Linked DNA regions of Homo sapiens: regions 2, 3 and 4 are each linked to region 1. Evidence: fine-mapped expression QTL. A gene starts in region 1. Each other region holds a variant in brackets. All regions are shown on one strand. Distances are from middle to middle.

The links. PIP is the estimated chance that this variant, and not a neighbour inherited with it, causes the effect.
Region 2: its variant is fine-mapped to the expression of RPL14 in whole blood (INTERVAL, PIP above 0.99).
Region 3: its variant is fine-mapped to the expression of RPL14 in monocytes (Quach 2016, PIP 0.93).
Region 4: its variant is fine-mapped to the expression of RPL14 in aorta (GTEx, PIP 0.97).

The regions. Positions count from the first base shown.
Region 1 is chr3:40,453,665-40,459,987 of GRCh38, reverse strand. RPL14 (ribosomal protein L14) reads right to left here and starts at 2,649. Exons shown (of 6, transcript NM_001034996.3): 1 at 2,514-2,649; 2 at 1,997-2,098; 3 at 1,252-1,346. The coding sequence starts at 2,516. RefSeq lists silencers at 856-1,150, 2,364-2,413 and an enhancer at 2,556-2,850.
Region 2 is chr3:40,320,049-40,326,371 of GRCh38, reverse strand. It overlaps the pseudogene PGAM1P3. Among named protein-coding and RNA genes, the nearest start is that of EIF1B, 14 kb to the right of the region's middle. The variant TTG/G (reference allele first, on the strand shown) is at 3,765.
Region 3 is chr3:40,332,180-40,338,502 of GRCh38, reverse strand. No RefSeq gene overlaps it. Among named protein-coding and RNA genes, the nearest start is that of EIF1B, 26 kb to the right of the region's middle. RefSeq lists an enhancer at 791-840. The variant A/TTA (reference allele first, on the strand shown) is at 3,218.
Region 4 is chr3:40,404,696-40,411,018 of GRCh38, reverse strand. The region is part of intron 4 of ENTPD3 (ectonucleoside triphosphate diphosphohydrolase 3); the gene reads right to left. All of the region lies in intron 2 of ENTPD3-AS1 (ENTPD3, EIF1B and MYRIP antisense RNA 1), which reads left to right. Among named protein-coding and RNA genes, the nearest start is that of ENTPD3, 21 kb to the right of the region's middle. The variant G/A (reference allele first, on the strand shown) is at 3,159.

The DNA.
Region 1 (6,323 bases):
TTCACTCGAGGTTGTTCAAGTGGCATGTTTTCAACTACCAGTACTTCAAAATCCATTATGTGTTAATACACGTCCCACAGTGCCTGTAGTGCTCAGCATACAGTAAGTTTTTTTTTTTTTTTTTTTTTTGAAACGGAGTCTCGCTCTGTCACCCAGGCTGGAGTGCAGTGTTGCGATCTCGGCTCACTGCAAGCTCCGCCTCCCGGGCTCACGCCATTCTCCTGCCTCAGCCTCTGAAGTAGCTGGGACTACAGGTGTCCGCCACCATGCCCGGAATATTTTTTTTTTGTATTTTTAGTAGAGACGGGGTTTCACCGTGTTAGCCAGGACGGTCTCCATCTCCTGACCTCGTGATCCACCCGCCTCGGCCTTCCAAAGTGCTGGGATTATAGGCGTGAGCCACCGCGCCCGGCCAACATACAGCAAGTTTTTGACTATTTTTTAAAGCATGCAAAATTACATGTTCCACTGCAACCATCATTGTGGGTTGAATTAACTGTATAGCAACACACTAAAGTGTTTTAATTTTCATGTCAAAAAAGAACTGCTATTCACTGCCTCACTTAAATGTAAGCTAGGGATAAAACCTCTTATATTAAATACTGTGTAACTGACACACACTGAGAGCTTATCTAATGATAGCTAGTAGCAATAAACACAAGACTTAGTATTGTTGTTTACTTTAAGCTAAAAATTTGGCAGAAACCAGAAGAAAAGAAGATGGCAAATCTAAACAAAGGCAAAGCCCTAAACTACCAGGATAGAAAAGTGACCTCAAGGCATTTATTTTATTTATTTATTTTTGAGACAGGGTCTCACTCTGTCATCCAGGCTGGAGTGCAGTGGCATGATCACGGCTCTCTGCAGCCTCGACCTCGCTAAAACGATCCTCCCAACTCAGCACCCCCAAGGCCCCCCTACCTGGGATTACAGGCGCGTGCCACCATGCCCAACGAATTTTTTTTTTATTTTTTGTAGAGATGGGGGTTTTCGCCATGTTGCCCATGCTGGTCTTGAAACTTGGGCTCAAGAGACCCTCCCACCGTGGCCTCCCAAAGTACTGGGATTACAGGCATGAGCTATCACGCGCAGGCAAGACATTTTAAAAGTAAATAATCCCTGTCTACTTCTATGATGCAAATCCCTCTTCAGGATGGCTCTGAATCTTCCGTATTGTTTACTCCAAAACAAACTTTTACTAGCATAAACAAATCTGGGGATGGGAGGGAGGAGTGATTAGTGGACAGTTACCTGTGCGGAAACTTGAGGATGAAATCAGTGAGCTGCATGCACTTGAAAGGCATGGCCTGTCTCCTCACTTGAGTGCAAGGTCCATCGACCAAAGCCTAGAACACAAACATCAAGAACTTCAGTGCAAAATCTAACAGCAATTAAAATGGTCAGATGGTTCTGTAACATTACTTATCCGTTCAGGGCCATCAAACCCACACTACTATTTTAATAAATTGCTCAGAAAAGACAAGGATTGTCCTATCTGGGTTATATATATGTATGTCTTTTGCTCAACACAAACATTTCTCCACATCATTAAATGCTCCTTCTTAAACTATATAGTACCCCATAGAAACCAACCACATGTAATTTACAGGCAACTTTAGGACTCTGATCCCTGCTGATTTATAGTCAGTGGTCAACTCCTTAGTTTGCTTGTTTCAAATACACAGCAGTAAATACAAAAGTGCTTTCTACGTGCTGGATCTGTTCTAAACTCACTTTACGTATAGTAACTCATTTAAAACTAACCAACGTTTCAGCCTATAACTGGCTCTAGCTTAAGTGGCTAATACTGAAATTCAATACTAATAGCTAACTTCAGGCTGTGCTTAAAACCCGTACCATTACCTGTTTCCTCAATGGTAAAATAAAGCGACTACCCATAGCATCCTCATCTTACACAGCCATCGAGACAATTCATTATTGCCATCTGCAGGGCACATGTCCACTGCCATGTTTAGTAAAAAGTTGTGACACTTACCCTGTTCTGATCAATAACATCTACAATCGCGACCAATTTTCCGGCATGAGGTCCAAAGGAGACATAGGCCACCCGGCCAACCTCCACGAAGCGCCTGAACACCTAAAATTGGAGGAGAAAGGACAGTGAAACTTACTTAGAAATACTCGCTACATATGTCACCTTCTGCAGCTAAAGACAACATGGTTAAATTCAGCGAAAAAGAATGCTGCAGGGAACAAACGCCCGAGAGCCAGGCGCCAACCTGGATGGACGAAATCAGCAAACGCCTCAGTAGCTTAAGCCCGGTTCCCAACGCCCGCCAGCTCCCAGGTCCGCAAGGCCCACACGGCAGGACAAGGCTCTCGGACCACGAGCCGCATCAGCCATCCAGCTCCAGCGGCGGAGGCGCGCACGCGTGGCCCAAGGCGCGCCAGGCCTGCCGGGCCCTCCACGCGCTCGCCAGCGGCGAGTCCGGGAAGGGCGCGAGTCCGGGAAGGGCCCGATTCCGCTGCACAGCCGGCCCGGGGACCCTCACCATGCGCTTCCCGGGACCCTCTGGGAGCCGTTTGGCGCCTCAGCTTCCCAGCGGAGGTGGAGGTCGAGCGGCATGGTCGACGGCCCCGGAGCCCGCAACAGTAAGACTCACCATGTTGGCGGCGTTAGGCGAGAAGGAAGAAGACCCGCCCAACCCTGCGCATGTGTAGAAGAACGCACCGCCCCTGCGGTAACGAGTCACCGACGTGAGCACCGATTGGTTGGTGCGTGCGTGCGTGCGTGCGTACGCACGCGCTCGCAAGCTCACTGGGAAAACATGGCGGAGTCGGCTGGCGTTAAGTTGCTTTTTGGCAAAGTTGGGCGGCGAGATTGTTTTTGGTGATTTGGATTAGAAAGCTGCAGGAGGGTCATCGCTTAGTAATTTAGGGTTAAGAGTACAGAAGCTATGTCTTCCGTTGGTCGCATGCCATTTGAGTTCCTTTTTATTTCCTCGAGTTTTATTTGTTGGTTATTCATGGCTAGGTCTGTTCGCTCCTCACGTTCTCTCCTAATCTCAGTAACTTTGTTAACCTTTCATTTTCAAGTAATTCACAGTTACAGAAATATTGCTAAACTAGTACAAATAATTCCCACAAACCCTTCTAGATTCCACAAATGTTAACGTTTTGCATGTGCTATATCATTTGAAAGGAAATTGCCGACATGATGTCCTTCTATCGCTACATTTTTTTTTTTTTAAAGACGGAGTCTCGGTCTGTTGCCCAGGTTGGAGTGCAGTGGCGGGGGCTTGGCTCACCGCAACCTCCGCCTCCCGGGTTCAAGTGATTCTCCAGCCTCAGCCTCCCAAGTAGCCGGGACTACAGGCGCGCGCCACCATGGCCGGCTAATTTTTTTGCATTTTTAGTAGAGACAGGGTTTCACTATGTTGGCCAGGCTGGTCTCGAACTCCTGACCTCGTGATCTGCCTCCCTCAGCTTCCTAAAGTGCTGGGATTACAGGCGTGAGCCGCCGTGCCTGGCGTTACATTCTTTTATAGAGACAGGGTCTCCCTCAGTCGCTCAGGCTGGAGTGCAGTGGCGCGATCATGGTTCCCTGCAGCCTCTAACTTCTGAGTGAAGACGATCCTCTCGTCTCGGCCTTCCAAAGTGTTGGGATTACCGGCGTGAGCCACCATGCCCAGCCTATCTATACGTTCTTAAAATGTGTATTTCCTAACAACAGAGAGATTCTCTTATGTCATCAGTACACTTATCAAAATCAGGAAATTGATATTGCAATAGTACTATTATCTAACCTTCAGTCCTTATTCAAATTTATAAGTTGTTGCTCCTATGTTCCTTGGAGCAAATGGGAAAAAAAATTGTTTTTCCAGGCTCTTGATCTAATGGAGGATTACAAATTGCAATTATTTATCAGGTCTCTAGTCTTTAACTGATAGTTTTAGATTTAACTGTTAAATTTGTAACATGGGTTTGTTGGAGTTTTCCTCATTGGATTCAGATAGTGAATTTTTGGTAGAAATGCTATGTCCTTGGTGCATCACATCAGAATACATTCTCTCTCTCTTCACTCTCTCTCTCTCTATATATATACGCACACACAAACACTTTTTTTTTTCTTTCTTTTTTTGAGATGGACTCTCCCTCTGTCACCCAGGCTGGAGTGCAGTGGTGCGATCTCGGCTCACTGCCACCTCTGCCTCCCAGGTTCAAGCAGTTCTCTGCCTCCCGGGTTCAAGCAGTTCTCTGCCTCATCCTCCCAAGTACCTGGGATTACAGGTGCCTGCCACCACGCCCGGCTAATTTTTGTGTTTTAAGTAGAGACAGGGTTTCACCATTTTGGCCAGGCTAGTCTTGAACTCCTGACCTTGTGATTCACTTGCCTCAGCCTCCCAGAAGTGCTAGGATTACAAACGTGAGCCACTGTGCTTGGCCACACACATATACATTTTTTCGAAGAGATGGGGTCTGGCTGTGTTGCCCAGGCTGGAGTGCAGTAGCTATTCACAGGTCTGATTGTAGCCTGCTACAGCCTTGAACTCATGGGCTCAAGCAGTTCTGCTTCAGCCTCCAGAATAGTTGGGACTACAGGAATACACCACCACACATGGGTTCCCAATATTGTGGTGGTATTTTATTCTTTAGATTTTTACCCAGGCCAGTGCAGAGAGGTGTTACCTTTTATCACTTGATTAAGGTGATGATCTTTGCCATGACAGTTCCCAGATGTATTTCAAGCCTTTCCTCTAAGCTCTATGCCAGCATATCTTCCCTGAGACTGCTCTAGCAGCCTCCTAAATTCTGTCTTTAATCTGTTCTCTGCTCAGCAGTTAGAGGGATCTTTTAAGTAAGTAAATCAGATCACATTATTTCCTGTTTTTAACAGTTCGATTGCTTTTCATAATATTTGGAATAAAATCTCAACTTCTTACTCTGGCCTTGTATCATATGCTTTAATACCCAGATACACCTTATGCCATCCCTCCTTCATTGTGTTGAAGCCACACTGGTCTTGAATGGGCCAAGCTCTCTCCTCCTCCATGACCTTTATACATGGTGTCTCTCTTGCCAGGAATGGTCTACCCATTGTTAATACTCATCGTGTAGCAGTGCCAACTTATCTCTTGTATTTTTTCCTAGATATTTTTCTGAGAGTTAACCAGGCTACCACATAAAAAAAGGTTAAGTCCCCACCCTTCTTTTTCTAGCTCACCTTGTTTCCCTCAGAGTTATCACAATTGCAATTGTTTGACTTGTTTTGCTGCCCACGTAGGTGTTGTTTCGTTCCAGTTAGAATAAGTTCCATGAGGGCAGGACCTTTGCTGTCTTTTCTGTTTTATTTTCTCACCTTAGTCTGGTAAGGGGCTCAATAAATAGGTAGTGAATGAATCAGTCTTTAGGTCTTGTTGTCTTGCTTTATAATTTACAAAGCAAAAGATATGAATGAAGAAGAATGTTCATTTTAGCATTTTTTTTGCTACTATCTCCAAACTGGAAATTACCCAAAGGCCCATAAACAAGAGACTGGATAAATTGTGATAACAATCTATAGCAACGGAGTCTACAGCAACTACATGGAACAATGCGGATGAATTTCATAAATAACACTAACAAATAAGCTGACACAATATATCCTGTATGCTTTTATTTATATCAAATTCAAAACAGGCAAAACTAATCTACAGTTCTTATAAGTAATGATCATATTTACCTTTGGTGCAGGCAGCAGTGGCTAAAGGGGAAAAGGGGAGCTTCTGAGCTGCTGGCCATGTTGTTTCTTCATCTGGTGTTAACTACGGGAGTGTGTTATTATTTTTGTTTTAAATTTTTTTAGAGACGGGTCTTGCTATGTTGCCCAGGCTGATCTGGTACTCCTGGCCTCAAGCCATTCTCCTGCCTAAGCCTCCCGAGTAGCTGGGATTAGGGGCACGGGCCACCCCGCCTGGCTGAAGTGTTTGCTTGTGAAAATTCAGAGCCCTATCCATATGGTTTATGCGTTTTCTCACCAAATGTATGTTAACCTAAAAAGTTTTTTTTTAATGCAGTTTCCTGGCTGTACAACCAGAGAACTTTATTTGCAGGTCTGGTGAGGGGCAAGAATCTGCATATAAAAACAAGCTCTCAAACACACTTTGAACTTCCCCGAACACAATTTGAGAAACACTTTGGGACTCCCCCTACAGTTACAGAATTATTTTCTAAAGTACATTATCTTGTTATATCACTCCTGTTTAAAGTTGATTTTTATCCCCTATCTTACAGGATATAGTCCAAACTCCCTAGTCTGGCATTCAAGGCACTCCAAAATCTTACTCCCAAACACCTTCCTAGCTTTTTTCTCCGACCATTCT
Region 2 (6,323 bases), 130 kb after region 1:
GGGCAGTCAGGGCTTAGAGCGTCTCCTGGTCACAGGAGCTGACAGCAGAGCCAGGACAGAATCTAGGCCTTTTAGCAAAAAGTCCTCATGACACCAACACTGCCTGTGTCAAAAAGGCAATTCTGAATGATGTTTTATTTTTTTCTCTCCCTCTCTAAATTGAACAAGGATGTGTGTTGCAACTCTGGAATCCATGGAGGCAATTTCGGTCCTCGGACACAGGTACTAACATGGCCCTGACCACCTGGGGAAAATATCCAAGGACCTTAAGGCCAAGTGGCCTCTAACTCAGGTCTCTCTCTGGCATGCTTTGGAAATGTCTCTCTAAATAGGCTTTTATCCACTGTTACTGGGCTAACCTACTTTTAGGGGCTTCAGGTTAAAACCTGAGGCCAACTGTGGTGCTGCAAATACTATTTTAATTGGAATGAGCTGCTTAATCAAAAGTTCTTGGTTCAGTGTGTGGTTCCTTCAAGTGCCATGATTCCTGTGTCACATTAAATCCAGGGTCAGAAAACTGTGGATCTCAGACTAAATTCTGTCCTACCTATTGTTTTCATGTGGTCCAAAAAGTATAGTTAACTATAGTTAAGAAAGGAATTATCCCCCATTTAAAAATGGTTAGTGAAAAAAAATCAAAAGGTGAATAGTATTTTGTGACATCTGAAAATTATATAAAATTGCAATTTTAGTGTCTATAAATAAAGTTTTATTGGAACACAGCCACATTCATTCATTTATATACTCTATGGCAGTTTCTTGCTTCAATGGCAGAGTTGAGTATTTGCAGCAGAGATCATACAACCTGTGAGCCTAAAATATTTACTATTAATATTTACAGAAAAAGTTTGTGTTAAAGTATCATTACAGAACTTTATTTTATTTTATTTTTTCCTATTCAACTTTTATTTTGGATTCAGGGGGTACAAGTGCAGGTTTGTGACCTGGGTATACTGTGTGATGCTGAAGTTTGGGGTACAAATAATTCTGTCACTCAGGTGCTGAGCACAGTACCCAACAGTTAGTTTTTTGACCCTTGCCCTTCTCCCTTCCTCCCTACTCTAGTAGTCCCCAGTGTCTATTGCTGCCATCGTTATGCCATGAGTACCTGATGTTTAGCTCCCACTTATAAGTGAGAACATGTGGTATTTGGTTTTCTGTTCCTGCTTTAATTTTCTTAGGATAATGGCCTCCAGCTGCATCCATGTTGTTGCAAAGGACATGATTTCATTCTTTTATATGGCTCCATAGTATTCCATGGTGTATATATGCCACATTTTCTTTATCCAATCCACTGTTGATGGGCACCTAGGTTGATTCCATGACTTTGCTATTGTGAATAGTGCTGCAGTGAACATGTGAGTGTATGTGTCTTTTCGGTAGAATGATTTGCTTGCTTTTGAATGAACATACAGTAATGGGATTGCTGAGTCAAATGGTAGTTCTGTTTTAAATCTCCAAACTGCTTTCCACAGTAGTTAAACTAATTTACATTCCCACCAACAGTATTATAAGTGTTCCCGTTTCTCCACAGCCTCACCAACATCTGCTGTTTTTTGACTTTTTAATAATGGCCATTGTGACTGCGGTGGGATGGTATCTCATTGTGGTTTTGATTTGCATTTCTCTTATGATTAGTGACGTTGAGCATTTTGTCATGTTTGTTGGCCACTTGTATGTCTTCTTTTGAAAAGTGTCTTCTCATGTCTTTTGCCCATTTTTTAATGCAGTTCTTTGTTGTTGTTGTTTTTTGCGTGTTTAATTATTTAAGTTTCTTATAGATTCTGGATATTAGACCTTTGCTGGGTGCATAGTTTGCAAATATTTTCTTCCATTCTGTAGGTTGTCTTGTCTGTTTACTCTGCTAACAGTTTCCTCTGCTGTGCAGAAGCTCTTTACCTCTCATTTGTCAATTTTTTTTGTTGTTGCAATTGCTTTTGAGGACTTTGTCATAAATTCTTTCCTAAGGCCCATGTCCAGCGTGGTATTTCCTAGGCTTTCTTCTAGGATTCTTATACTAATTTAGATTTAATAGAAACCCATAGCAAGAAAAACAAGAAAAAGAAAACATTTTCAAAATAAATGTTGTTTACGTTTACATATTTTTAAATTCTCTCTCTTTTCCTAGCAGAGGAAAACCCAATCATTGTGAGACTGCAAACACCCGGGGAGCTTACTTGGGTTTTATCGTGGAGCTGCTCTGCCCTCAGGCATTTGGGGAGAAGGACTCTGGCTCAGGCTGGGATTTTAGGAGCCAGGTTGAGTGACATAGTTGGGCTAGGTAGTTTATAGCGTTGGTATAAAGATGAGATTGGGATACCATGAGCTGGGAAGATGGCTAGGGCATTCAGTCACTCCTGATTCAAGACCTCCCGACAAGGTTCCTGAGAAAAACCTATGTACAGGACACAGCCTCAGATGAGAGGCAAAATGATACTTTGTAACTAGCTGAACTGGAAGAGACATGGACAAGCCAAAACAATCTTGGAAAAGAACAGTTAGAGGACTCACATTCCCAATTTCAAACTCACTACAAAGTTGCAGTAATTAAGACAGTGTGGTTTTGGCATAAAGATACATAAACAGATCAATGAAATAGAATTGCAAGTCCAGAAATAAACTCTCATCTACGGCCAATTGATTTTCAATAAGGGTGCCAGGATGATCCAATGGGCGAAAGACTAGTGTTTTTAACAAATGGTGCTGGAATAACTGGTTATCTACATGTACAAGCATGAATTTGGATTCCTACCTTATACCAATACACAAAAGTTAATTGAGACTGGACCAAAGACTTAAATGTAAGACCTAAAACTACATTCCTAGAAGAAAACACGTGAATGAGGAATGACTGCTAATGGGTACAACGTTTCTTTGGGGGGTGATGAAAATATTCCACAACTGATTGTAATGATGTTGTACAACTTTAGGAATATACTAAAACCACACTGGACTGTACACTTTAAATAGCTGAATTTTTTGCTAGGTGAATTATATCTCAATAAAGCTGTTTAAAAAGACCTTGTGGCAGTGGCCTAGATGGATCTGGGTTGATCAGCCTGATACTTTTCTGTGAGGCGTGGTGGCTTGGACAGTGGAAGAAAAAGCCATCTGGACCATCTGCACAGTGCTGGATGCCATTGACCAGATGTGGATGCCTGTAATGAGGACTTGGAACGAGTGCCACTATGGGGTTCTAATTGGCCTTAATAAAGCAGAAGCTGCTGCCAAGCATGAGGAGGCCTTGGTAAAGATCTGGAAGTGCTCCTATGATGTCTCATCACCTCTGATGGAGCCCAACCATCCCGTCTAAGGCAACACCAGTGAGAATGATCAGCTACCCTCCTGTGAAAGTCTGAAGGACACTACTGCCATAGCTCTGCCCTTTTAGAAAGAAGAGATAGTCTCCTAGATCAAGGAGGGGAAATGGGTGCTGATTGCAGCTGATGGCAACAGTTTTCGGGGCATTGTTGAGCATCTGGAGGGTGTCTCTGAAGAGGCTTCATGCAGCTGGACCTGCCAGCTGGTATTCCCATTGTCTATAGATTGGACAAGAACTTGAAGCCCACCAAGCCCATGTAGTTCCCGGGGGGGGATGAAGAGACTGTGCATAAAGCCATGGAAGCTATGGCTATTGGGAGCAAGGTCAAGAAATAAAGGCCAGCAGATAGATTACTGTCCCAAGGAATGCCCTCTCTGCCCATCCCTTCCTCTGCACTTCTGCATATGTCACACTGACCATAGTCATTTTTTTTTTTTTTTTT[TTG/G]AGACGGGGTCTCGCTTTGTCAGCCAGGCTGGAGTGCAGTGTCACAATCTCAGCTGACTGCAACCTCCACCTCTGAGGTTCAAGTGATCCTCCCGCTTCAGTTTCCCGAGTAGCTGGGACAGTAGGAATATGCCACCATGCCTAGCTAATTTTTGTATTTTTAGTAGAGATGAAGTTTCACCATGTTGGCCAGACTGGTCTCAAACTCCTGACCTCATGTGATCCACCCATCTCAGCCTCCCAAAGTGCTGAGATTACAGCTGTGAGCCACCGTGCCCAGCCGTAGTCATCTTAAGTTGTAGCTGCAGATGGGGGACCAGTGGCTTCCATTTTCCTTTCAGCCATTGTATCTCCTACACCCACTCCCTTCATACAGCTGGATTGGAATAGCGTCTCTGGGGCATGGGTTCTCAGTCCACACTGAGGGAAGGCTTCTCTTAGCCAAGAGAGTTCAGTGGTAGTAACTCTAGGTTTTGCCAGGGCTATGTTTACTAGGGACCAGCTTGAGAAGGGGAGAGGGAGGAACCATGCTAAGGCATGACCAATGAAGAAGCAAGAAGCAATGAAGCAAGAGTGCCTATTTGACCCCAGGAGCCAGTCCTGTGCCCTTCTGTGGTTAGGTCACTGACTTGGGCGGTGGGGTTAGTCATTTCAGTGGAAGATAAATGTAACCTACATAGTAATGTTAAAAAAAATCAACTATTTCCTCCCTGACACCACAGAAGCTGGCTTTAGAAGGTTGGGATCAATCTTCAATTAAGTTTATGTGTTGCATTCACACATATTTATATATATAATATCTATATATAAAATATAGATATAATATATATAATTTTTATCTATATAAAATACAGATATTATATATAATTGCAACACATATGTGTACATATATGTTTGTAAAAGTAAATGCAACACAAACTTAACACATAATTCAACACAGAAACTTAAATTTTGTCTATATATGTATGTGTGTGCATATATTTGTGTGTATGTGTATGTATATACACACTATATATATACATATATATTATATACATACACACACACACACACACACACACATACACATACACACAACCACTTTGGGGTTTCTAGTGGCAGTTGAAATAGTTAGTCCCATGTATGGTCATCAGAAAGTAAGCCAATCCTCACACCAACATGGGATACGCCTTTTGACTTCTAAGGGTAGAAGTGCATTCTGCTGTATATTTTAGAATCCCTCCCCTGCCTTGTTTTGTGGCAGTGAAATGCCCCTTGAGCATGTCCAAATGTGTCTTTCACTGTGCCTGATTTCTTAATCGTGTTCTACTTGCTTTGCCCTGTCACATGGTCCCAGCATTCTTTTTCAGAATAACTGTACTACATTTTTTTCTAGTTTAGTATAACAAAGGAGTGATATGCAATAAAAAAGTCAAGATGATAAATTTTATGTTATGTATATTTTACCATATTATTTTTTCAGAGACAGGGTCTCACTCTGTCACCCAGGCTGGAGTGTAGTGGTGTGATAATAGCTTACTGCAGTTTCAAACCCCTGGGCTCAAGTAATCCTCCTGCCTCAGCTTCCCCATAGCTGGGACTACAGGTGTGTGTCACTATGCTTGGCTAATTTTTAAATTTTTTTATAGAGACGAGGTCTTGCTTTGTTGCCCAGGCTGGCCTAGAACTCCTGGCTATAAGCCATCTTCTTGCCTCTGCCTTACAAAGTACTGGGATTACAGGTGTGAGCCACTGCACCCAGCTTATTTGACCAATTAACCTTATTTTTTGTCCCAGTCACAACATATCTTTCTGGGTTTCTTTGATAACCTATATAGTTTTGCCTTTCACAATTAGGTCTTTAATCCATTGTAATCCATTAGTGTTTGTGGTATGGAGTAGGGACCCAGCTTTTTCTTTATTGAGCCAAATTTCCTAACACCTTCAACTAAATAATCCATCCTTTTCCCCATGGATACTTCTTGCATATGTAGAATGATGTGATAAGAAGATAACTAAGTCTCAGCCAGCATCTGGGCAAGCTAGGCCACTAGGAAAATATCAGCAAAGGGCAAAGGGGCCTAGAACCCAAGTCTTTCCAAGGCCCTGGTAGAATATGTCCCTTCCAGGCATTCATTTTTCCAGCTTCCTTTCTCCTGGAACTGAATTCCCTTCTTCTTCCCCTACTCCAGGGGAGAAGCATGAAATAAAGAGTAAGGAAAGGGCTTACCAGAAATAATTATGTTCAAGCAATCCTATTACAAATATCTATTCTCTTCCCACCTCAGATACACAGGCTCCAAATATCTTCAAAATGGAAAATGACCCACAGATACGTTACGTATAATAGATAAGTCTGGAATTTCCCAAAGGGTGAGTGGTGGTCACAGGGAGGGAGATTTACTCATTTGTTCAACAAATATTTATTGAGCACCTATTGTATTTCATACCCCGATCTAAACTGGATTGGGAGGTACAAAGGTATCTTAAGTTGGGTTCCTCCAGAAGGCTATGATAAGGATGTAAGTGCTGGTAGTTTATTTGGGAGGTGATCTCAGAAAGCATAGGTGGAGGTATG
Region 3 (6,323 bases), 120 kb after region 1:
GGAGTTCGAGACCAGCCTGGCCAACATGGTGAAATCCTGTCTCTACTAAAAATATAAAAATTAGCTGGCCATGGTGGCACACACCTGTAGTCCCAGCTACTCAGGAGGCTGAGGCAGAAGTGCTTGAACCCAGGAGGCAGAGGTTGCAGTGAGCCGAGATTGCGCCACTGCACTCTAGCCTGTGTGACAGAGCAAGATGCCATCTCAAATAATAATAATAATTGAGTCTAAGAACTTATTGTGAAGATTTGACCAGAAAAGTGACAAAAATGGCTATCTGTGGGAAAGTTCTAATACACATGTTTTGGTTAAAAAATATTAGAAACAACCTAAATGTTCATAAATGATGATGAATGGACAAACAAATTGTGGTATATCCATATAATGGAATATTATTCAGAAATAATAGGAGAAAGGAAGGATGTATACGTGCACAAAGTGGATAAACCTCAAAAGCCAGGCACAAAAGGTCACATATTGCATGATTCTATTTATATGAAATACCCAGAATAGATCAATTCATAGAGACAGAAAACAGATTGCTGGTTGCTAGGCACTGGAAGGAAGGGTATGGGGAGTAACTGCCTAATGGGTATGGGGTTTCCCTTTGGGGCAATGAAATGTTTTGAAACTAGATAGATGCAGTGGTTGTACAATATTGTGACTATTAAATGCCGCTGAACTGTTTCCTTTAAACGGCTCATGTTATGATATGTGAATTTTATCTCAACAAAAACAACAAATGACAAGAAAGGGTATCCCTACGTCTATTATCAACCCTCTTAAGGAGCACGGCAGGGACAGGTGTATTTCCTGGGCTTAGTGCTGCAGTTGGAGCTTCTATCCCAGGCGTCATCCAGTCTGGGTAGGAGGAGCCTCTGGTTTGTGGTGTGATCAACCTTGATAGCCCTCCTTGGATCCCTGTTCTGAGCAAAGCTGCCTGGCCCCATGGCCCACTACCAGCAGTTTCCATCTATTCCTTGCCCTGAACAACTCCCAACATGGTATCCACTAATTTGTTGCCAATCTCCAGAATCACAAGCCTCAAAAATTAACAAAGATGGGGTGGGGATGACAGTTCGAGGAAAAGAAATGTAAAGTCGTCAGAGGCCAGTGACTAAGAATAACTCACTGAATGCTTTCACACACTTTCATACACTAATTGTGAGAATGTAAATTGACTCAACAATTCTAGAAAGCAATTGAGCAATGTGTTTCCAAAGCCTTTAAAATGATCATATCCTTTGACCTAATTATTGCTCATCTATACATTTATTCTTAGGAAAGAGATGTTAATTAGACAAAGAATCAGCTACGTGGAGGTTCATTCAGTGTTATTTATAATAGCAGAAAATTAGAGACAATCTAAAGCCCCCCAAAAGGGCAATATTGTGATATATCCATGAAATGCAATACTGCTTTGGTTCTCTAGCAATGATCACTTACTATCTCTCACGGAATTTGTGATCAGGAACTTAGGCAGCAGGGAGTAAGGCCTATTTCTACTCTGTAATGCCTGGGGCTTTAAGTGGAAGACCTAAAGTCTGCTATCTTGGAAGACTTGTTTGCTCACGTGTTGGCAGATGCTGATATGAGCTAGAGGCCCAAGTGGGTCAGTCAGCTGGAACATTCACATATGGCCTTTCCATATAGACCTGACTTCCTCACAAATGTGGTTTGGTTCCAAAGGCAAAAAACAAAAAGTAAAAAACAGAGCCATGTTGTCTTTATGAACTAGCCTTGGAAGGCACACAGCATCACTTATGCCACATTCTATTGACTGTGGCAGTTACAAAAGTCTGGCCAGGTTCAAAGGGAGGAAACAGAGACCTCACTTCTTGATGGAAGCACGTGAATGTCACACTGTAAGAAGAGCATGTGGATGGCAGATATGTGGATGTGGGTATATTTGGAAAATACGGTGTGACTGTAACTAGTCATATCTTAAAACAATATCTAATGGTGTGGAAAAATGTCCATTATATGTTACAAAATTAAAAAGTCAGTTTACAAAGCAGTATGTATAGTATAAGCCCACTTTGAATGAAAAACATATAGTCACAAATACTAACAGTGGTTCTGTTAGGGAAACAGGAGCCCAGGAGAGCCACAGTAACATAATTTTAATATCAGCTCCCTCTTGGGACTAACAAGACACATTCCTTGTGGGTCATGACACATAGTCATAAGATATTCACCATTGAGGAAACAGTTTAAAGATACCTGCAAGGACACACTCCTACAACAATGGAAAGTCCAGATGTCCCAATACCCATGACCATATATGCTTTCAAGATAATTATGCTTTGATGTAATTGCACACTAAAATGTCAAGGATCGTTTTATTTTTTATTTTTCTTTCTTTCTCTTTTTTTAGAGACAGGGTCTCACTATATTGCCCAGGCTGGTCTCAAACTCCTGGGCTCAACCGATCCTCCTGCCTTGGCCTATCAAAGTGCTGGGATTATAGAAGGATAGTTTTCTTTAACTAAACAGAGTAATAAATTTTGCTATGCTGTCAGCCCACCTGCATGTAGACATACCTTAGCTTAGCTTTTACATAGACTAGACCCTATATAAGTAAAACTTCAAAAAAAAGACAAGGCAGTCTTCTTCTTGCTTTCTGAGGATGCCCTACTCTGTAACTGAGTAGCTTTCAATAAACTATCTCTTCTCACTGCACTCTGCGATGTGCCTTGAATTCCTTCTTGTGTGAGATCTAAGAACCCTCTCTTGGGGCCTGGAATCAATATCCCTTTTCCAGCAACAGTTCTTTCTAGGATGTGGAATAACAGGAAATGTTTAATTTCATCTTTATTATTTTCTATATTTTCCAACATTTCCAAAATAAACACATATTAATTTTATAATTAGATAATAAAATAAAAATAAAAATACCTAGTCAATTTTTTTTTTTGAGACAGAGTTTCACTCTGTTGCCCAGGCTGGAGTGCAGTGGTGCAATCTCGGCTCACTGCAACCGCCGCCTCTGGGATTCAAGCCATTCTCCTGCCTCAGCCTCCCAAGTAGCTGGGATTACAGGCATGTGCCATCATGCCTAGATAATTTTTATATTTTTAGTAGAGATGGGGTCTCACCATGTTGGCCAAGCTGGTCTTGAACTCCTGACCTCAAATGATTCACCTGCCTTGGCCTCCCAAAGTGCTGGGATTACGGGAGTGAGCTACCATGCCCGAAAATTTTTTTTTTTTTTTTT[A/TTA]ATGAGCTGCTCTGCCTTAGGATACTTTAGAGATTCTTTACCTTAGTGTGTCATGTATCTTCTGCCCCACATTTCAGAGAATGGTAGGCTTTCCTCATGTTGAAGGCCAATCCCACAGCTAGCCCGCCTGTTCTTGCCTTCGCTGAGGGACTTTACTCAATTGGTTACTCCCTGTCTCTCCACTGTCTTCATCCTGTTCTTTAATCCTTGATCTTGCCTCCTGGTTTAAAGGTATTTTTGAGTGCCCAAACTTTAAGAATTAAAATATTTATTTCACTTCAATATCTACTACTCTATCTCTGCTCTGGAAAGAATCATCTATACTGGCTTTCTCTATTTTCTCACTTCCAATTCTTTTCTCAGCTCTCCACAATATGCTTTCTGGCCTCACTACTCAATTTAAACTGCCCTGGGAAGGGTCAACAGTGGCTGCTGGATTATTAAATCCAGTGGAACCAGAGGTCACAAACTGGGGTCTGTGGGCATGCTCTTGTCCATGGATGGATTTCTCTTGGGCTTCATAGTGCTTTCAAATTTTTGAGTTGATTTCAACATTCAAAAATTGGGAAAGTCCATATAAAAATGCAGAATTCCAGCATCTCTTTAAAAATTGGAAGCTCTAACAATACTGGCCCCACCTTCTTGCATGGAAACAGCCTCTTGAGTAGACTAGTAGCTACCTCCCAAAGAGGATACCTGCTCTCCAGGGCCCCTTAGGCCCCACTTGGGTTTGGCCTTAGATATTTGATCACATTGGCTTTTGGCTTATGGATATTTGAGTTTTAGGCCTTCACGTTTATTAAAGTTAACTTGTGTCATTATCATCAAGGTTAAGACTAAAATTGTGTCTTCGTTAGTGTTCCTCCAAAAGCTGACACTGAGACTAGGATTGGGTGCAAGTAGTTTATCTGAAAAGTGATTCCTAAAAGCTTGGTGAGAGAGAAGGGAAGTGAGTCAGAGAAGAATGAAAGCCAATACAAGGTGAATTAATGAGCTGGAGGCTAGGGCAGTCACCTGGGGCTCCCTCCTGGGGGACCTTCTGAGAGACATTCTGAGAGAAGAAGTGGAACCAATAGTTGAGGAAGCTGGGGTGTTTGTCCACCAGCTCCTGTCCCTCATTGGAACCACTCCTGGAGCATTAACTCCCTGGCACTTCCGGGCAGTCCTGCTGACTTGCCGCACATGCCCACAGCCAGAGAATGGCCTGTCAGAGACATGCAGATGTGTAGGGTAGGAAGCTGTGGGCCTGTGGGAACTGTAGGTGACTGCCAGGTGCACAGTAGGCAGGGCCCTGACAATGTCTACAGAAAGCTGATTTCATCTCATTTCCCCATCATGCCTGGCACGGAGTTAGCACTTCATAAATGTGAGTGGTTGGAAGTTCTTGGTTTTCTTATGCTTCCCCTGATTACTTCTTATCGGAAATGAGATGAAGTTAAATGGGTAATTGTATAATCCTAGTTTGTTTGAGTCTCCCTGTGTAGTTGGGGCGGGGAGGGGAGGGGAGGAATTACTGAAATCATCCATTCTTTGCCTATAGGCAGATCACAGCTTTCCTTGAGAGCACTCTTGTTGGTTCCCTGAGTACAGTGTTGGATTTAATAGTCAGGAAAGTCTATTTTTACTTGGTGATGCCTCTGGGTGTTCTTCTGCAAGGTTCTGGCCTGGGTCCAAGTTGCTGTGGCACTGATTCCCAGCAGCATGTGGCCACAAGGATAAGGCATGAGTGAATTAAAGTTTAATTAAAGGTGAAACTCCAATATGGATGGAGCTGGCTGTCTCCTGCTGGGTAATTAGTGAGGCGAGGGTTTGAAAGGGCAGCACAAAGATCCCCGCTGATGTCAGACGCTCCTCCTAGGTATGTCCTCTTGGGCAGTTTTGTGGAACACCTTTTTTCCTCCCTGGCAGTAGAATAGAAAGATGTTGTAAACTAGTAGTAGAAACAAAGAACACCAATGTGGGTGGCCTGGGGTAGCAAATGCGAGTGGCTTCTCATAGGTTCATCATCAAATCGGTTACCATGACTTGCAGGCTCCTCCTCCTGAGCCCTTCAAGCAGCCATCTGGGAAAGACCAGGTGGAAAGGCGTTCTTGGGGACAGACCTAACTTTCATGGGTGTCAATGAGCGCTTTGTCCCGTGGTCTCCCTATTCTGGTGTACGTGTGAAGTGGAGGAGGGTCAATTTCTCAGCTTCTGTCCCCTTCAGGGGGTGTACTCAGAGCTGCGTGTTAGACTTCCCTGACCATTTTATCCAGAGCAGAACCAGGCTCCAAGGACCCCAGGAAATGGAGTGCGCGGACCTTCACAGTAATATCAGCAGTGCTAACAATAACTATACCGACGAAGTTCAGCAAGCACTCACTGTGCAGAGTGCAAGCTCAGGCAGTCATGCATCATCACACTCACTCATTCACTCCTCCCCGCAACACCGCAGCTCTGCCGGCACTTGCATCTTCCTTTTCACTCTCCAGGCCTAGTGCTCTCACAAGGCCAGCTGAAACAAATCTCTGGCGTGCTCATTGCTCTGCTCTCCTCAGGGTCCCTCATGATCCCTCCTTTCAGACAGCTGCAGCTCCTACCACCAACGGCTGGATTATTTTCTTATTTCCCATCTCAAATTTCTGAAAGCAAGAACATCCCAGTCTGCTGGGACCTGAGACTTATGCAGTTTTAGAGACCCCCTTTAAGAAAGGAATAAAAGCATATGAATGAATGCAATACTAGGCTCAGGGGCAAGGAGGAGGCCTGGACAGGCGAGGCACCAGAAAGTCCCAGTGTGTTTGTTTCAGGGTGAGTCGGCCTCTGCTAGAGTCTAATAATACGTTTTTATTCTGGTGGTTGGGGTGGAGTGGGGTGACAAGCCATGGTACCAAACCCAGTTATTAAAAGCTGGTGCATTTGAGCATGGTCCCTGTCTCTGATGTTCTCCTCTCAACCACGCAAGGAGGCCCGGTCTTCCAGAGTGGACTCAGCCACCTCACCATTTCATGTGTATTCATCCAGAAACTGGGCTTGGGAGAAACTTCCCTGGGGCCTTGGGCTAAGAAGCACGCACTCCATGGAGTTCTGCAGGCAAAGGTGCAGACATGAGGTAGGGAATCGTCAG
Region 4 (6,323 bases), 49 kb after region 1:
ATGCCTTGCCAAAAAAATAATTTCTTAATATCATTAACTATCCAGTCATGGTTCCCATTGCCTCCATATTCGTTCTCATTCTCATCCTCTGTGTCTCTTTCTCTTCCTACTCCTCCTCTTCATCCCTCCTTCTTCCTTCATCCATCACCCTCTTCTCATTTGTATGAGTCAGGATCCCAATAAATTCGGTACAGTGCAATCTTAAGTCTCTTTCTGTCTATTAGTTCTGCCTTCCCTTTCTATTTTTCTCCTAATTATTAAAAATTTTACTTGCAATTTCTTCGTCCTGAAGAATTTCCACAGTCTAGAGTTTGTCGATTGTACCCTCATAGTTCAATTAACATCTTACTTGGTCCCTTGTATTTCTATAAATGGTTAACTGAATGTAGAGGCTTGATCAGATCAGGTTTGAAATTTAAAAAAAATATATAGGGATTAGTGTGGACTTACAATAGGAGGCACAGTATCTGGTTGTTTCTCTTTTTGTGCTGTTATCATCAATGATAATGGTTTAGCTCCATTATTTCATTAGGGGTTGCAAATAGTGATATCTTTTTCTCTTTTTTTTTTTTTTTCTGAGATGGAGTCTCACTGTGTCACCCAGACTGCAGTGCAGTTGGTGTGATCTCGGCTCACTACAACCTCTGTCTGCCAGATTCAAGCGATTCTTGTGCCTCAGCCTCCGAAGTAGCTGGGATTACAGGCACGTGCCACCGTGCCTGGCTAATTTTTGTATTTTTTGTAGAGACAGAGTTTTGCCATGTTGGCCAGGCTGGTCTCGAACTCCTGGCCTCAAGTGATCCACCCGCTTCAGCCTCCCAAAGTGCTGGGATTACAGGTGTGAGACACCATGACTGGCCTGTTGCATTTTACTTTTGAGTTTTAGGAATTACTTTTTAAAAAACGATTTTGTTTTATAGTTACTAAAATAATTAAGTAGTTCTAAAATTAGATCTACAAAACTAGGTATATTCAGAGACATCTAGATTCTCTCCTTGTCTCCTCTTCCTGTAAGTAGTTTCTTTTTTAAAAAAAGTTTAACCAATGTTTGTTTAAAATAAGCAAATATATATTTTTAATCACCCCAACTTTTAGATAAATGGTAATTTACTATATATACTTTTCTCCACTTTTTTTTTCTTTGCATTCAACAATACTTCCTAGTGGCCACTCCATAGCAGTATATAAATATTCTTCATTTCTTTTTACAGTTGCATTGCATGCCATTGCATGAACATAACTTAATTTGTTCTCCCAGTCCAGGCTCTGAGTTTAAATAAGTCTACTTTAAGGAAGACAAAGTATAGGACAGACAAGGAAGATGGAGAGAATATGGTCCCTCTGGAAACTTCCTTCTTTGGAATTGATAGAGCCACTGCCTCCTTCAGCTGCCCTTTCTTAACCTTTCCCACCCATCTTCCAACTACCACAAACCAATAAAAAAACCTGAGCATTGTAATTACAAGTTTTGCTTGGATGTGTCCATTAAGATGCACAGACGTGGATTTCATCGACAGTGCTAGAGAAGCAAGGACAGGCTTTCTCAACCTTGGCCAAGGACAGAGCCTCTAATGTAATTTTCCCTCCTGGGGCAATGACCTCCTACAACAGACAAATGACAGCACCATAAGCCGTGGGCTTGATGAACTCAGTGGCTTGATCTCAGGAGTTCAGAACTGAAGTAGCTGTAAGAAACACTAATAACAATAACAACAATTAAATAAATATATATGTTTATATACGTATGTATATATAATTTTTTTTTTAGACGGAGTTTTTGCTCTTGTTGTCCAGGCTGGAGTGCAATGGCATGATCTCGGCTCACTACAGCCTCCGCCTCCCAGGTTCAAGTGATTCTCCTGCCTCAGCCTCCCGAGTAGCTGGGACTACAGGTATGCACCAACAGACCCGGCTAATTTTGTATTTTTAGTAGAGATGGGGTTTCACCATGTTGGCCAGGCTGGTCTCAAACTCCTGACTTCAGCTGATCCACTTGGCCTCCCAAAGTGCTGGGATTACAGGAGTGAGCCACTGCACCCAGCCTGTATGAATAATTTTTAATATAAAAATATATTAATCCTAAAAAAAGAAAAATGTTCCCCTCTGGTGGGAAGGATTATGGATGATCTTACTTCCTTTTCTACTTTTAAATAAAGATGGGGTCTTGCTATGTTGCCCAGGCTGGTCTCAAACTCCTAGGCTCAAGTGATCCTTCTGCCTTAGCCTCCTGAGTAGCTGGGAATATAGGTGCACACCATTGTGCCTGGTTCCATTTTATTTACCTGTGTTTTCTGATTTTCACACAATGAAAATATATTATTTTGTAATTAGAAAGTTATTTTTAAAAAGACACACAATTCTCTCAGTAAATAAAATGTGAGATTAAGCTCTCAGGCATATTCCTATGAGATAGGTTAGTTAACAGGTTTTTCTCTCCAAAATGCCAATAAAGCCAACAAAAACAACAAAACTATGCTGAACATCACAGGTCAGTGCTCACATTAGTCTTAATTCTTTACTGTGAAACTAGTGAAATGAATCCCCATATACTGATCATTCAGCTTCAACAGTTAATCAATACACAGCCCATCTTATTTTCATTTATATGCTTTCTTTTTTCCATCTCTAGGAATTATTGTAAAGAAAATCCCAGGCATTATGTTAATTCATCTACAAACACTTTAGTATATGTTTTTAAGAGGGAAGAACTCTGAAAAATATAACCATGATACCTAAGAAAAAAATCACTCCTAAAAAAGTTCTTAATATTATTAAAGACCTGTCAGTGTTCAAATTTCCCAGAATAACTTTTTCTTTATAGTGTGATGCAGAAACCAAAGTCCATACCTTGTATGTGCATTTGGATGTTTTTTAAGATTCTCATTCTGTAACAGTTTTCCTGCCCCCCTTTTATCTTGCCATTTATTTATTAAAGAAATCATTTTAATGGAGTAGGTCTCTTATTTTGGATTTCGCTGATTGGATCCGTGAGGTGTCCTTGAACATGTTCCTTTGTCTTCTGTGTTTTTTATAAACTGGGAGTTAATTTCTAGAAATGTGATCAGATTCAGATTTGATTTTTTGGCAAGAGCACTTCCTAGGTGTGCTAGGTTTTTCCTAGTGTACATCACCGCACTGGGGGCATATCATGTCTGTCT[G/A]ACTTCTTAGATTATAAGCTCCCCATCACTTTTCACCTAATTGCGCACTTCCTCTTTCTTCAACTACCTTGGATTTGGGTTCTGACCTTCTTCTCCCCTCACTGGCTGTCATTCCTCCTAAGTTCTTTTGCTGGATCCTCTTCCTCTCCCCAACCTCTCAGTACTGGAGTGTGTAAGGCTAAGTCCTCAGATCTCTTTTCTTCAGTATCTATTCACTCCTTAGATGAGCTGGGGCTGGATATCGTCTGTATTCTGATGACACTCAGCTTTATTTCTTCATCCTCCCCCTCCCCCGAACTCCCGACTTGCCTATCTGACAACTCCACATCACTGTATAGATCAGGAATGAGCAAGCTATTTGACCCCATACCTGTTTTTGTATGGATTGCAAGTGAAGAATAATTTTTATATTTTCAAGTAGTTGGAAAAAAATAAAATGAAGAACAGCATTTCATGACATATGAAAATTATAAGAAATTAAAATGTCAGTGTCCACAAGTAAAGTTTTTTTTTTTTGAAATGCAAACATGCTAATTCATCTACCTGTTGTCTATGGCTGTTTTCATGCTAAAGGGGCAGAGTTGAGCAGTTACGACAGAGACCATATGACCCACAAGTCTAAAATATTTATCGTGTAGCTCTTTACAGAAAAAGTTTGCCTCCCCTGACTCAGATGATTTATAGCCATCTCCAACTTAATATGCCCAAAACCAAACTCTTTAAGCTTTGCCCTGCCCCCAATATGCTCCACTCCCAGTGTTCCCCAATCTCAGTAAATGGTGTTGTGATGCACACAGTTGCTCATATCCAAACTCTTGCTCATGCATTATGAACTCAGATGCCTCACATCAAGTCCATCATAAAATCATGTTGGTCCTACCTTCAAAATACCTCGCAAATCTAAGCACTTCTCACCCCCTTCCCCAGAACCATCGTAAACCAAGGTTTCTTAACCTTGGTGCTACTGACATTTTGGGGTAGATAATTCTTTGTTGTGGAGGCTGTTCTGTGCATTGTACAATGCTTAGAACATTGTAGAATGGCAAGGGAAAAGGCCAAGTGTGGAAGCTGCTCAGCATTTTCTAGGAAAAGCCAAGGGGCCAGTGTGGCTGGAAGAAAGATGAGAAATGTCTTCTATACACTAGATGCTAGTAGCACCACGGACCCAGTCATGACAATCGAAAAGATCTCCAGACATTGCAAAATGTTTCCCGGGAGACAAATTCACCTTGTGTTGAGAAGCACTAGTCAAGGGCAAATTGACCATCACCTAATCTCTCACCCGTACTGATTTAACAGCACTTAACTGGTGTCCTTGCTTCCAATCTTAGCCCCTGACTACGTGTTCTATATCAACTGAGTGATCCGTTAAAAACAGAAGTCATATCGTATTAGTTCCCTAGTTAGAATCTTCTAATGGCTTCCCAATATACTTTGAAGAAACTTCATTTGTGTCACAGTCAAACCCTTAGGACACCTCAAGTCCCTCCAAGGAGCAGGCCTTGGCTCTAGCTTCAGTCTCATTTCTCATCTTTCTTCCAGCCACACTGGCCCCTTGGCTTTTCCTGGAAAATGCTGAGCAGCTTCCATGCTTGGCCTTTTCCCTTGCCATGCCTCTGCTCAGCATGTTCTTCCCCCACACATTTACATGGCCCATTGTCTCATATCACTTTTGTCTCTGCCTAGCTGTCATATTCTTCATACTTCCCTGACAATCCTGTTCAAAACAGCATGATCACTCTCTTTTTCCTGCCCTGCCTGATTTCTCTTCACATCATGTCTGCCTGACACTCGTTATATGCCCGTTTATTTTTTTGTCTATCTTCCTCATTGGAATGCAAGTCTCATAACACATAACCACAGATTTTGTATATATTGTTTATTTCTGAATTCCTGGTGCCAAGAACAGTTCGTATCAAACAGCAGGCACCTAATACATATTTATTAAATCAATCAATCAATGAGACTTTCAAACCACTATACATCTCTGTAGTAAGGAGATTGGCTAGTCCAATCTGGGATAAACAAAATATAATCTGCAAGGAGCTGGTCTCTGGTTAGCGGCTGGTGAGAGGCGAGATAGAATGGTGAAACCTTGGGAGTATGTCACCAGACAGCCTGTTTGCATAAGGTCCATTAAGCCTTCTAGAGGGAAAAGGAGATAGGATTCACAGGCTTCTAAGCTGCTTGGACTTGGATACTTGGTCCCATGAGAGGAGCACTGAAATTGCTATTTCAATATGGGGAGAGAGGGTTAAACAGACGGCACAAAACTTACTTGAGGGGAAACAGAAGCCAAAGACACGCACCTCAGCTTGAGCTCCGGCCAACTATTGGCAAATGATTTTTTTTTTTTGAAATGAAGTCTCGCTCTGTCACCCAGGCTGGAGTGCAGTGGCATGATTTCCACTCACTGCAACTTCTGCCTTCTGGGTTCAAGCAATTCTCCTGCCTCAGCCTCCCGAGAAGCTGGGATTATAGGCGCCCACCACCAAGCCCGGCTAATTTTTGTATTCTTAGTAGAGATGGAGTTTCATCATGTTGGCCAGGCTGGTCTCAAACTCTTTGCCTCAGGTGATCCACCCGCCTCACCTCCCAAAGTGCTGGGATTACAGGCATGAGCCACTGCACCCAGAGGCAAAGGATGTTTTTTTAATACTATGGTGGCCTGGTTTCTGATGCAACTCTTTGAGGGATTTTAATGGAGGAGATAGTTAAGTTTAGGCTCTAGTGGAGCTTAAGTAATTTTTAGTCACTGGTTTAAAGGAAAGACATTATGAATGTCCCTTGTGGGGAAAGGCAGCAGCAGGCATGAGTACTGCAGATGAGATGAGACGCATGCAGAGAACCCAGCACCTCCAGGAGGTGGCTTCACCACAAGCAGCCAGAGGTACAGACACCAGCACAGAAACCGCCAGCAAAGGCAATGAACTCATGGAAAACAGTAGCAACTGGGGGTTGATACCAACCAGAAAGAAATTTCTGAGGGCCTAGGCATCTGGGAATCCCTGCTGGGTGAGCAAGCATTCATCACCCCCTTCTGTTTGGCCAAGACAGGGGAGTCCTGGGAAGTTTGCAATGGAGGAAGCAGAAACCCAAATTATCCTTGGAGAAGCCACAAGCCTTTGAGGGGATGACACTTGCTGACCTTCAACTCTGTAATTT